2 separate regions of the Homo sapiens genome follow, and region 2 is linked to region 1. A link means that fine-mapping ties the variant in region 1 to the expression of a gene that starts in the linked region. Tissue or cell type: whole blood. Region 1 holds a variant in brackets; the other region holds the start of a gene. All regions are shown on one strand. Distances are from middle to middle.

Region 1 (2,679 bases):
GACCTCGATCTGCCAGGAGTGGCCAGACACGTGAAAAAGCAGCTCCTTCTGCGTGGCCCAAACCCATTTTGCAGACGGGCCAACTGAGGCTCAGAGGGGAATCTCTGAGGTCCCATCATGAGGCAGGGGTGGGCACTGAGCCTAGCTCTCCAGCCTCCTGGGATGAGGAGCTTCTGGCCTGAACTTTTCGGAGTCCCTGAATTATCTTTCGAGGTGTTCTCGTGAGGCCACTCTGCACCCTTTAGAGGGGAGCAAACAGAAGTTTGCCTAAAGTTACACCCTGGAGAACTGGAATCCGAGTCAGCGGAAATCCAGGCTGGCCTTTGCTAGGACACTGGGATGACGATGGTGGAAGTCAGGGTTAAAGAAAGTCTTTTCAGGCCGGGCGTGGTGGCTCACGCCTGTAATCCTAGCACTTTGGGAAGCCGAGGCAGGTGGATCACCTGAGGTCAGGAGTTTGGGGTACCAGCCTGGCCAACATGGTGAAACCCCGTCTCTACTAAAAATACAAAAATTAGCCGGGTGTGGTGGTGGGTGCCTGTAATCCCTGCTACTCAGGAGACTGAGGCAGGAGAATTGCTTGAATCGGGGACGTGGAGGCTTTAGTGAGCCGAGATGGTGCCACTGCACTCCAGCCTGGGTGACAGATTAAGACTGTCTCAAAAAAAAAGAAGTCTTTTCAAGTTGGCCAAATCACTCAGGGCTATTCTATCAAGTGGAAACAATGTATCCCTTAGCCATTAAAAGGTGTTCCGCCTCCCACCCTGAGAGAGATGAAGGGACTGATAGCATAGGCTGATATCAGTCACTCTCACTTTAGTATGAATTAGTCCCACAACTGATTTCAGGAGATTCAGGCTGAATGCTGAGAAAAGTGGATGAGAAGTGCCCAGTAGCAGCTAGGCTGGAAAAATCTCCACTCCACGCCCAGCCCCAGCCCCCAAACTTCTGTAATTAAATCCTTTTCCAGCAGGGCTAAGGCCAAGAAAAAAGTGCGGGAGGAAATGTTGTTAGGTGCGAAGTTCCATGAGCCCGAGGATGCCTCTGAACCCCCCTCAGCCTGCATTTTGAGGTCTGCCTGGCCTTGTCTCTTTTCCTCTTTTCCTTTGGGTGGACTTGTCTCTTTTCCTCTTTTCCTTTGGGTTTCTTTCTCTGCCGCACACTAGTGCCAGCTGGGGAGGGCTGAGGGGCCGGTCGCGGGGAGGAGGGAGAGGGCGTTAGTAAACATACCAGGCAGAGTGGGTCACAGTTACCATCACGGTGGCTGTTAGTTTGGTGAGGAGAAGGGGAGCAGAAGGGGCACAAAGGGGATGGGGCGTTAGTTGTTGACGTGGTGATGAAATCAGACTTACCAAAGGTTTCTGAACGTTTACAACAGGAGGATAAGAAAAGAGAACAGGAACGTTAACGGGTGGTTACAAAGAATCCTATGTCCTCA[G/T]CGAGGAGGGGAGGGCGGGGGAGGGGAGGGGGACGCTCAGAATAATAATAACAACATTTCTTATGATTCCTAAAGTGGCTTATGTTCACTGAGCACCTAGCAGGCGCTAGACATTCCATCCTGGAGAGGTCACCAGAACACAAGGAAAATAGGCATGTTTTATGGGGAAACTGAGGCCACCGCTCCCCCTGCTTGCAGAGGCCTATGAGCTGCAAACATCCTCAGCCAGGCTGGGAGATAGGAGGCGATTTGTCCCCCCAGTGTGAGGTCTGAGTCTCTCCAAGGAAGACATTCTGGGCTCCACGTCTGATCTTTTTGGGGCTTGGTTTTCACTAAGGAGGAGGAGCAGAAAGCGGAGAACAGGTAGGTAGGCTCTTTGGTGGGGGGCAACGATGGGCAGTGAGTGAGGGGCGCTGGGGATGATTCGGGGAGGTACTGCTGCAAAGGGGGCTCCGTGGCGGGATCCTCGGAGGAAGGGGAGAGAGAAAGCAAAAAGAGGGGTGTGTGGAGGTGCAGGGTGATCTCAACAGTGACCTGAACGAAGGCAGGGCGTCAAGCCCGGCACAACTGAAAACAGTAAATCCGTGACACAGACAAACACGCATGTGCAGCCACACGTGTGCTCCCAATGTATGGAGACACATCCCCACCACGTGTGTCCCCACGCACGAGCACTAGGGAGGTGCAGGCTGAGAGGCGCGTGCGCGGATCACTGCCCTGTGTGCACAGGCACGGGAGTGACTGCAATGTGGGTGCACGTGTGGCCGAGATGCAGGCGGACACTTTGCTCCGGGCGGGGGAAGGGAGGCCCGTGTGTGACAGCAGCCAGGCCTGCACACCTGTGCCCACAGGCGGGAGGCAGGCCAGGCCGGCACAGGGAGCCCAGACATGCACACGTGGACATGTCGTGAAGCGGGGGGACAACACACACGCAGACACAGCCCCCCAGACAGATGGACCCACAGATGGGCCATGTGGGTGCTTTGTGGAGACACAATGGTGGAACCACCCGTCTCCAAGGCTCTGTCCCAAGGTCTCCCTAGCCCAGCCAGGGCCTGAACAGACAGGCTGGACTGCCCGTCTGTGCCCCCTTACAGACCTGAAGCCCCGCCATCACCTCTTACTGCTCAGCCTTGGAGAGACTCTCTCCCTGTAGTTTTCTATGGCTCCCCATCACCTTACTTGTCACCTCTGGACACCTGCCATTGCCTTACACAGCTTCCACTACTCCTGCCTGTCTG
Region 2 (2,679 bases), 78 kb after region 1:
GAGGCTCTGGGAGGTTTGTTAATTTGGGGGAATGAGGTCCCAGGAGGTGGCTGGATTTGAGGAAGGGTTGCAGAGGAAGGGGCGTTCTTGGAAGCTGCATATTTAGGGAGACGAGAAGACGATTTGAGACTGGGGAAAGAGGGTCAACCGAAGAAGGAGGTCCCAGATTTGGGGCGGGGGGTGTGGCTGAAAAAAAGATTCCCAGTTTGTGGGAAAGGTTCCCTGATTTGAGGATTCTGGAGAGAAAGCGGCCGAAGGGGAGTTCCCCAATTTGGGAAGGGGGGGAATTGGTGGGAAATGTCCAGGATTTGTAGGGGGAGGTCCGAAGGGGAGGATCTTAATTTTAGGAGAGATTCCCATAAAGAGAGGTGAACTTGGCCGCAACCTGGCCGAACCCTCGCACCCACGGCGCGGGCACTCTAACCTGGGGGGCTCCCCTCAGGGCACGCCCCGCGCCCCCTTTAACCCAGTGCCGACGGCCCCGCCCCCGGTATGACGTCACCTCCCCTCCCCCCGCAGCCCCCGGGGGCTCCCGGGGCGTGCGGAACCCGCGGGGCTGGCGGTTCCAGGGGCGGCTTCCCCACTCTCGGGATCCCCACGGGGCCCCCAGCGCGGAGGGGAGACTGGGGTGCTGGGCGTGCGCGTCTGCCTGCCAGAGCCCCTGGGGCTGGGGGCTGAGGCTCGCCCCTGGGTGGGGAGGCTGGAAGGGGGCGCCGAGGCCGCAGAAGGGTGGGGCAATGCCCGAGTGCCGGAGGGGCGACCTCCCATAAGGCAACGACAGGGCCCGGAGTGTTCCAGGGGAGACGGCGTAGACTAGGGGGTCTCCAGGGGAGGGAGACCCGGAGAGGGAAGGCGGCGGGCGCAGCAGCCCTGGAGCCACCCCGCCTGGAGCCACCCGTCCCGGCTCCTCTCCGCTCCGGGGCGCCCGCATGCCCCCCATCCCCCGGCACAGCGCCCCCTGCCTCCAGGACCCGCCCGGGGACCCGGGCCGGGCGCCGCCGGGGCCGGCACCGGCTCCGCACACACGCGCGCCCCCCTCCGCGCCTCTGCCCCGCCCGCAGCCCGGGGTGGTGCAGCCGGCGGCGCTGGGCAGCTTCCAATGCCGCGCTCTGGGCGCTTCCAGCCCAGCCCCCTCCCACGCCGCGGACGAAGCCCCCCCAGCACCCCCTGCCGAGCGCCCCCAGCGCGGCCCCGGCCCTGTCCCTCGGGGCATTGTCCGGGCGCAGCTACCGGGGCGCAGCGGCTGGGCGTGCAACTGGCTGCAGCCGAGCATCCTCCGAGCACAATGGCCGTGCAGGCTTCCCCGGCACAAAGCCGGCGCGCTGCCCACTCGGCTGCCTCCGAGACCCCCCTTGGAGCGCCTGCATTTTTTTTTCCTCTAATCCATGATTTTATTTTTTTTTTTGGCTTTACCTGGAGGCTGGCTGGGCTGGGCTCCCCCGGCTCTGCCCCGCTTCACATCGTGGCTGTTGCATGGGATCCGAGCGGAGCCCGAGCGCCAGCGGCTCGCGGCGTGCGCGCGCCGGCCGGGCTGCCGGGCGGGCGGCGCGAGGACACTCACTGCGGCTCGCGCTCCCCTAGCTCCCGCTCGCGCGCCCCCCCAGCCGGTGACGTCATCCCTTCCGCCAGCGCCGCCGCCGCCGCCGCCGGGTCGGGGGCAGGGCCGGCCCGTGCGCGTCACTGCGCAGCCGCGCGGCCGCCACGCCCCCCGGCCAATGGGACGGCGCAGCGCGGTCACGTGGCTCCGGGGTGTTTAAAGGGCCGCGGGAGCACGTGGGGCGCGGGGCTTCGCGGGACACGTGGGCGGCTGGGGTGGTGGTGGTGGTGGCGGCTGCGGCGGCGGCGGGAAGGGCCCCTGGGGCTACTGTCCGTGCGGGAGCCCCAGCGTCCTGGGTGCAAAGGGCATGGCACTTTCTGTGCGCTGCCCTAAACTGTGCCACGGCTCCCCAGTACCCTTGGAATAAAATCCCGCCTCCTCTCTGCAGCTCGCCGTTTCACATTAGCGCCCACTACCCTGTCCCCTCCCCCCCACCATGTCAATGATCCAGAAAAACCAGCTGCTCCTTCTTTGCTTTTTCAGAGATGGGGTCTGCCACCTGGGCCTCAGTACAGTGGTATGATCATAGCTCACTGCAGCTTCAAACTCCTGGGCTCAGGTGATCCTCCCGCCTCAGCCTCCTGAGTAGTTGGGCTCGGGTGATCCTCCCGCCTCAGCCAGCTTCTTACAGTTCCTCTAACTTGAGCATCCAAGAACTTCCCCTTCTCATCTTTCCAATTTCTGCTCAAATAAGCAGCGCCTGGGAGAAGCCCTCCCTGACAACAGCTACCAGCCACGCCCCACTCCACTCTATCCCATTATCCCGGTTTGTTGTTGTTGTTGTTGTTTGTTTGGTTTTGAGTCGGAGTCTCACTCTGTCGCCCAGGCTGGAATGCAGTGGCGTGATCGCGGCTCACTGTAACCTCCGCCTCCTGGATTCAAGCTATTCTCCTGTCTCAGCCTCCGGAGTAGCTGGAATTACAGGCGTGCTGTCACCACGCCTGGCTAATTTTTGTATTTTTGTTAGAGACAGTGTTTCACCATGTTGGCCAGGCTGGTCTTGAACTCCTGACCTCAGTGATCCGTCCACCTCGGCCTCCCAAAGTGCTGGGATTACAGGCGTGAGCCACCGCGCCTGGTCC

The links. PIP is the estimated chance that this variant, and not a neighbour inherited with it, causes the effect.
Region 2: it holds the start of PTPRS, and the variant in region 1 is fine-mapped to the expression of PTPRS in whole blood (TOPMed, PIP above 0.99).

The regions. Positions count from the first base shown.
Region 1 is chr19:5,261,612-5,264,290 of GRCh38, forward strand. It overlaps PTPRS (protein tyrosine phosphatase receptor type S), which reads right to left. Exons shown (of 38, transcript NM_002850.4): 6 at 1,353-1,361. Among named protein-coding and RNA genes, the nearest start is that of PTPRS, 78 kb to the right of the region's middle. The variant G/T (reference allele first, on the strand shown) is at 1,439.
Region 2 is chr19:5,339,251-5,341,929 of GRCh38, forward strand. PTPRS (protein tyrosine phosphatase receptor type S) reads right to left here and starts at 1,562. Exons shown (of 38, transcript NM_002850.4): 1 at 1,414-1,562. RefSeq lists a silencer at 1,490-1,769.